Homo sapiens: one gene and its partner. The protein of the gene in region 1 purifies or fractionates together with the protein of each later gene. This does not show direct contact. Each region holds a gene or a part of one and is shown on either strand. Other genes may lie near its edges. The genes, in order: PLBD2 and WDHD1.

Region 1 (3,815 bases):
GATGAACAGGATTTGGATGTGTTTCAGTGAGATGGTGATGGAGCAGCAGTCATGAAGCCATCAATCCTGAGGCAGTGAGTGCTGCCACTCACTCACGGGGATGACCAGGCTACGTGGTCTTTTGTCCCCCAGCAGGCGAGCCTGGACTCATGCAGGTGGCATCTCGGTGGGAAGTGCAGAGGGCCGCATGAAGTCTGGGTGAAACTGCCACGGCATTCTCTTGCCCAGTGGAATCAGAAGGGTTATTGCTGTTTTGTTCCCTGCTATGTCCTCAGTGCTTAAAAAGGAACATAATAGGTGCTCAAAAAAAAAACATTCATGGATTGACTAACTGAACACACATATAGATTGGGGTCCCCAGTAGCAGAGGTGGTGCCATCAGTTATAGGCTTTGCAGGCTAAAGGCTCTCAGGGCAACTTCCAGGGGCCTGGGGTCCCTATCCGGGGCAGAGCTGGGCAGGGAGAGGAGCCTCCAGGGAGAGGACAGCATGAGCAAGGACTCAGGTGGCCACACCAGCAGCCTCCGCTCTGGGGCAGCCTGGGTGGGGGGCTCTCAGGGAAGAGAGCACCCCAGCTGCCCGCCCTTGCCTCGCCCACCCCCTACCCCACAGCTCATCTACATGCACTGGATGAACACGGTGGTGAATTACTGCGGCCCCTTCGAGTATGAAGTCGGCTACTGCGAGAGGCTGAAGAGCTTCCTGGAGGCCAACCTAGAGTGGATGCAGGAAGAGATGGAGTCAAACCCAGACTCACCTTACTGGCACCAGGTGAGTCCTGCTGCCACGCTTGGTGGGAGGGGGCTTCCAGCTGGCCAGCCATCCTGTCTCCTGTTGTTCTGGCCAGCCTTGTGGCATGTCCAGCTGCCCAGCCGCCTCTGTTTCCATCATCATCTCCATCCCTCCTAGCCGACCTGCCACTCATCCATCTGCCCAGTCTCCATCTGTCCACTTGCTGGAACTCCAGCCATCCATCCTAGCCTACCTACAGTTAAATAATGACCAAAAACAAATAGTCAGTTGTTAGCATGGTGTTTTGCTTGTGTACATATGGTGTTTTGCTTGCATACAAGGGAGGTTGCTTGGTAGATTGATTACATTGGATGCAAGTAAAGACAGTATGAGAAAGAGGGGAAGGGGAAAACCAGAAAATCCCAGAAAGTCTGGACACAGTGAATTTTGTTTTCCTTTCCTTGAGTGAGCTGCTGATCAGCTGGCAGCTAACGGAGAGGCCCAGGCAGGCTCTCTGCCTTTGGGCCACTGGCTAGGCCATCATTGGAAAAGTCAGTTATTTATGGATTCCCCGGAAAATGTCAGGTGTTTGCTGTGAGGTACACACGGCAGGCTGTCTCTGTAAAGTGGCCATCAATGCCTGTTAGCATGTCTGCCTAGCCTAGGCCAGGTTTGCACCATTTTCCTCTGTAGAACTTCTCACTGTTTACCCACCCACCTACTCACACCCTAAGACAGACTCTTCTACCACCAACCCATCTACCTGTCCATTCCACACATCCACCACCCATCCATCCACCCATCCATCCATCCATGCATCCATCCATCCATTCATCCACCTACCCACCCACTCACCCATCTACCTATCCATCTATTCACTCACTCATCCATCCGTTCATTTACCCACCCATTTACCCACCCATCCATCCATCCTCCATCCACCCATCCTTCCACCCACCCACCCACTCACTCATCTACATATCTATCCATTCGCTCACTCACTCATCCATCCATCCATTTACCCACCCATTCATCTATCCATTCACACACCCGTCCATCCATCATCCATCCATCTACCCATACATACATACATCCACCCACCCACCCACCCACTCATCCACCCATCCATTCACCTCCCACCTGTCAACCCACTCACCCACCCATACATACATACATCCACCCACCCATCCATTCATCCAACAACCCACCCATCCATCTTGCAGATGCTTACTAAGTGCCCAGTGTGCCTGCCCAAGGCCCCATGAGGGACACACTGATGATACTTTATGGCTATAGGATGTTGAGGCAAAATGATGACAATGGGGAGAAGTCAGATGCATGAGACAGGTGCCCGAGGCAGCAATACAGTCAGTACTGAACTCAGAACAGGAGCAGTTGGCAAGAGGCCAGGCCAGGCTGGGAGGCGTCCTAGAAGAGATGGCTTTTGAACTAGGCTCTTAAGTGGGGCTGATTTGGGGTTAACACAGGGCAGAGACATAGAGTTAATTCATTGAAAGCAGGAGAGTGCTCAGCATGGAGGGGTGGGTGGTAGTTTGGGGGAGTCAAGGCTGGCTGGAGTCTGGAGGGTACCCCCGGGCCTCCTGCTCTGTCTGAACCCCCAGGCCAGAGCCCGTCCCGTTGAAGGAGAAGGTGTGAGCCTGGAGGAGAGGCCTCACCCTCCCTCTGCCCCCGCCCCCTCCCCTAGGTGCGGCTGACCCTCCTGCAGCTGAAAGGCCTGGAGGACAGCTACGAAGGCCGTGTGAGCTTCCCAGCTGGGAAGTTCACCATCAAACCCTTGGGGTTCCTGTAAGTGCCACCCCCAGAGTGAACAGGGTGGGAAGAAGGGCCACACACTCATAGTCGGACAGACCTGGGTTCCAGCATCAACCTTGCCACTCCCTGGCTCTGTGGCCTTGGAACAGTCAGCTGACTTCCCAGAGCCTCAGCTTTCTCCTCTGCAAAATGAGTACATAACAGCACTCACAGCAGGCGTGGTAACCCTCTGATGCCCTGGCCCTCCTCAGCCTGCTGCAGCTCTCTGGGGACCTGGAAGACCTGGAGCTGGCCCTGAACAAGACCAAGATCAAACCTTCTCTGGGCTCTGGCTCCTGTTCTGCCCTCATCAAGCTGCTCCCTGGCCAGAGTGACCTCCTGGTTGCCCACAACACCTGGAACAACTACCAGCACATGCTGCGTGTCATCAAGAAGTACTGGCTCCAGTTCCGGGAAGGCCCCTGGGGTAGGTGGGTGTGGGTGTGTCTGGGGGATGAGCAGGTGGGTGGGCACACACGTGGGGAGTGGTCCTAGGAGGTTTGGGCCTTGGAAACCCTCCCAACACACGGAGTCACTGCAGGGATATTCCAAGAGTTCATTTTGGTTTTGTTTTTTTCTTTTTGAGTTGGGGTCTTGCTCTGTTGCCCAGGCTGGAGTACAGTGGCACAGTCATGGCTCACTGTAGCCTTGACTTCCCAGGCTCAGATTATCCTCCTGCCTCAGCCTCCCAAGTATCTGGAACTACAAATGTGTACCACCACACTCAGCTAATTTGTTTATTTTTTTATTTTTAAGAGATGGAGTCTCACTATGTTGCCCAGGCTTGTCTCAAACTCCTGGGCTCAAGTGATCCTCCTGACTTGGCCTCCCAAAGTGCTGTGATTACTTATGTGAGCCACCACGCCTAGCCAGTTCATCTTGTTTTACATGTTTATTGCCTTTTTTATTTTACCTATTGCTGCTTAACCAGTTACCCCAAAATTTAAAACAACAACAGCTTAAATAACCGCTATTTATTTTTTGCTCCTGCCTCTATGGGTCAGCTAGGTGGTTTTGGTTTTCTGGGCTGGGCCAGGCTGATCTTGGCTAGGCTCACTGATGCATCAGCAGTCTGCTGGCAGGTCAGCTGGGGTGGGATGGCTGGAATGGGATGGCCTCTTCTCCTGTCTGGGGTTGATTGTCAGCCAGGGTGATGGGGACAGCTGGGCTACGTGGTCTTTCATCATCAGTAGGTGAGCACAGGCCTGTTCATGTAGCACTGGGGCAGGATATGGTAAAGGCCTCTTGAGACCTTGGTGAAACTGACACAGC
Region 2 (4,612 bases), on another chromosome or scaffold:
TCTCATGGGTATTACAGATATTATAGTGAAGGCATTTTGTAGCTATAACTTGTTCCAATTTGCAGATTCTTCTTATGCTGAGCTCTGAATAGTACTAACCAGAAATCTCACCACGCTTTATTCAACATAGAGACGAATATTATGAGAGTTCATCTTGAACTCTATGTACTCTAGCCAATGATATTGTTACTTGAACGAAAAAATTTATAAGCCAGTCTATCCAAAAAACAAATGATCTCCAAAAAAAAAAAATTAGGTCACTCAGAAAGCATCATCTCTGGTACCACTGCTCTTTCGGGAGATCAACAGTGGGTTATTTTTCCACAAATCCCAAGTTGTTTTTAAGCCAATCATTCTTCCTCTTCATTCATATACAAACCTCAGCGTCTAGCAAGGCTATCTGGAGCTCTAGTACTAAAAACAACGCCTCACACAATGCCACCCACGGTAAGAACACGACGGTTTGCCTGTGTGTTTGCAACTTTTCACAATGGAACTAGATTGAAAAAAACAATAGGGAAACCTCTTCAACAGAAAAACGTCTCAGGTAATAAAATAAATGTGATTGATACTGGAAGGTATCACAAAAACGCAGAAAAATTCTCAAAGATAAGTACAAATGAAAGAATATCATTCTGAAGGTTTTCATCACAGGCTGCTGTACCAATATGGAGAATGAAGATACAAGAAAAGCATAAACTTAAACTTAGTGGCCAAGACTTTAGCAGATATTGCATGGATCAAATGTAAGTGCTCAAGGCTACTAAGTTATAACTCTTCTTTTGGTTATAAATATTCACTTCAGTAAACTTTAGGTGGGATCTGAATAGAGAACACAAGTTACTTTCTTCATAACGGATATATAGAGTCGCAAAGAATAAGCATTAATTGAGCATTAATTAATTATACCTTCAGGTACCAAGAGAACCAACCGGAACAGAAATTAAGTCATTCCTTCTTTATCTCTACAGAAGCGACAAGGTGAGGGCACGAAGGATGCCAAGATTAGAGGCTCTAGAAGATCTCGCCTTCTTTTCCAGAGAAGATGCTCAAAGATCTGTCTGCTAACTGGGCCCCAAGAAAGAGACCGGATCCTTTTAGGGATCCGGATATTGTTTCCTGGGAGGAGAGCCTGGAGGGCAGGAACAAGACCCCGGCCTGCGAGGCCAGGCAGCGGCCACCCTTCCCCCACTCACCTCCCGGAGCGCAGCTTAACTGGGGTTGTGCGAGTAACTGCTGCCATCACCATCGCCATCAGTCTGGGCGCTTGCTTAAGTGGAGAGGGGAGGCCCAACCACTCCTGCACCTCGTGTAGGTCTTACAAAGCAGATGCTTTTCTGCCACCCCCAACCCCGCTTCGGCGTTCCGGTCCCAACCCAGCCGTCACGGTCATCGCCTCCGCCGGTTCCCTGGGCGCCGCCACCACTTCCGTGTTCAGCTCCCTCCCTTCCTCCCTGATTTGCCCGGGCAACCGGCTAATTTCCACGCGGAGGGCGCCGCAGCTGACGCCACCACCCGGCGACCTCTGTCGGGACCTGCGCTGGGCGTGGGCGGGTCGGCGCAGGCGCAGTGTGGTGAGCGAGCCGAAGCGCGGGAAGCAGCTCTTGTGGATCCTCAGTGGCGGAGGCTCGGTCACCCGGGTGAGTCCCCACTCCGGCTGCCCGCGTCCACCAAGGAGATGCGTGTTCCCTTTCCGGCTTATTGTCTGACAGACCCTCTGCCTTATCCCGCTGGTGTCACTCGGGTGGGGGAAACCGGGCTGCGGAGAACGGGCCCTAGAGGAGACTAAGCTCTCTTCCTATCCCTAGCCTCGCTGCTTTTCTCTTTTGAAATAATAAGACTGGCTTTTATAAAACATTTTCAGATAGGTAAAGGAAAACATGCCTGCCACACGGAAGCCAATGAGATATGGGCATACAGAGGGACACACGGAGGTCTGTTTTGATGATTCTGGGAGGTAAGGTTCTTTGAGAAACAACGTTTTAGGTGCAAATGTTAAAACATTTATCCTTAAACTTTATATGTGCAGTCAGCTAAAAATGACTCATGCGGATAGAGGAATAATGTTGAAATCTAAAATGGCACACATATTTCTTTAGATTATTGTTTGATTCGGGCCGTCATGGTAGTTGTAGTATATCGACAAAGTTATAATCGTACTTCCAGAGGAGTTGGAAAGATGCGAGCTTCTCTCCATATATTTTCCCCTTCCCTGCATCTTACATTATTAATTTTGTCAGATCACTAGTTACTGCCTACTTGTCAAATTCAGTGGCCTGTTCTGTTTGGAATGATATCCTTCCATGCCTTTAGTGATGCTATTTCCCTTTTTGCTTATTTTTTTTTAACTTTTTGACGGCTTAAAACAATTTTTTCCTCTGATTCCTAAACTATAATATTTTCCTACGGTTATTCTGGTCCCTTTTATCTTTCCAAGTCCCATTCTTACGCACTACTGCTCGATTGCACGGCTTCCACTGTCGCTTCTATGTTGATTGATTCATTGAAAAAATACTTGTGTGTCTCTTTTGCTGGGGACTACAGATAGAATAGAGCGAACCAGACACAGTCTTTTCCTCCTTTGAGCTTAAGGTCTTTTTGGATTGACAGGCATTGAACACAAATTAATCACAAAAATAAATGTGTATTTAGAAACAAGTAATATGTGCAGTGATAAACATGTATGAGGAGAAGCTCATCTAGTTAAAGGAGTCAGGGAAGGCTTCTTTGGACAAGTGTTTCTTGAGACGCCATCTGAAGACGGAGCAGGCATTAAGCAGTATAAAGAGATGAGTGGTGGTGGCGGTGGGGTGGTGATGTTGGCATAGTAAGCAGAGGCAATACTGTGTGTAAAGGCCCAATGGGGCCAGGGATCATGGTATGCTCAAAGAACTGAAGGAAAACTAGCCTTACTAAAATGTGGAGAGTGATGCAGAGTTTAGTGAGAGATGAATCTGTGAAGTTAGGCAATGGATGTCCTATCCAAGACCTTCTGGACTTTATTAAGGAATCTCGTTTTATCCTAAAAGCACTGAGAAGGTATTAAAGGCTTGAAGCAGAGAGATGTGATCAGGTTTGTTTTTGAGAAAATGCATGGAGGATGAATTGGAAAAGGAGCACTCATGGATGCAGAAAGACTGTTAGAAGATACCTGTATTAGTTTGTGTAGGGGCGGGTTGCCCCTCCACACTTGTGGGTGTTTCTCGTAAGGTGGAACGAGAGACTTAGGAAAGAAAAAGACACAGAGACTAAGTATAGAGAAAGAAATAAGGGGACCCGGGGAACCAGCGTTCAGCATATGGAGGATCCCGCCAGCCTCTGAGTTCCCTTAGTATTTATTCATCATTTGTGGGTGTTTCTCGAAGAGGGGGATGTGTCAGGGTCACAAGACAATTGTGGGGAGAGGGTCAGCAGACAAACACGTGAACAAAGGTCTTTGCATCATAGACAATGTAAAGGATTAAGCGCTGTGCTTTTAGATATGCATACACATAAACATCTCAATGCTTTACAAAGCAGTATTGCTGCCCGCAGGTCCCACCTCCAGCCCTAAGGCGGTTTTTCCCTATCTCAGTAGATGGAGCATACAATCGGGTTTTATACCGAGACATTCCATTGCCCAGGGACAGGCAGGAGACAGATGCCTTCCTCTTGTCTCAACTGCAAGAGGCATTCCTTCCTCTTTTACTAATCCTCCTCAGCACAGACCCTTTACGGGACGGTCAGGTCTTTCCCTTCCCACGAGGCCATATTTCAGACTATCACATGGGGAGAAACCTTGGACAATACCTGGCTTTCCTAGGCAGAGGTCCCTGCGGCCTTCCGCAGTTTTTGTGTCCCTGGGTACTTGAGATTAGGGAGTGGTGATGACTCTTAAGGAGCATGCTGCCTTCAAGCATCTGTTTAACAAAGCACATCTTGCACCGCCCTTAATCCATTTAACTCTGAGTTGACACAGCACACGTTTCAGAGAGCACGGGGTTGGGGGTAAGGTTATAGATTAACAGAATCTCAAGGCAGAAGAATTTTTCTTAGTACATAACAAAATGGAGTCTCTTATGTCTACTTCTTTCTACACAGACACAGTAACAATCTGATCTCTCTTGCTTTTCCCCACAAGTTTGGGTAAGTGTGATAGAAGCTTGGACTAGAGTAAACATGGGTGTGTAGAAAAGAGTAAACATTCAGGAAATATTTAAAAAGATAAAGTCAACAGGATGGATCAGATATTAAGGATGGAGAAAGAGGCAACAGGGATAACGTCTACATTTCTGAATGTTACGGTTGAGAAAGTGATGCTTCCACTTGCAAATAACAGGAACACTTGAAGAAGGGCGTATTTCAGAGGTAGAGCTGTGGGTGGAGATTGAGTTTGCGTTTGGATGTGATTATTGTAGGATTTCTTTGAGATATTCACCTAGAGGGATAAAGTAGACAGTTGGATAATTGTGTCTCAAGCTCAGAGAAAAATGTGAGCTAGAGATAGAAATATACAATTGACCCTTAACATGAATTTGAATTGTGTATGTCTACTTATACGTGGATTTTTTTCAATACACATATTAGAAAATTTTTGGCAGTTTCTAACAATTTGAAAAAACTAGCAGACGAA

The links.
Region 2: the proteins of PLBD2 (region 1) and WDHD1 fractionate together in Homo sapiens (co-fractionation; one large-scale study listed by BioGRID). This does not show direct contact.

The regions. Positions count from the first base shown.
Region 1 is NC_000012.12:113,372,038-113,375,852, forward strand, and holds part of PLBD2 (putative phospholipase B-like 2 isoform 1 precursor), read left to right. Parts: intron 1-611; coding exon 612-770; intron 771-2,436; coding exon 2,437-2,537; intron 2,538-2,755; coding exon 2,756-2,970; intron 2,971-3,815. UniProt on the Homo sapiens protein: Putative phospholipase.
Region 2 is NC_000014.9:55,024,056-55,028,667, reverse strand, and holds the start of WDHD1 (WD repeat and HMG-box DNA-binding protein 1), read left to right. Parts: upstream 1-1,568; 5' UTR 1,569-1,640; intron 1,641-1,864; 5' UTR 1,865-1,880; coding exon 1,881-1,957; intron 1,958-4,612. UniProt on the Homo sapiens protein: Core replisome component that acts as a replication initiation factor. Binds directly to the CMG complex and functions as a hub to recruit additional proteins to the replication fork.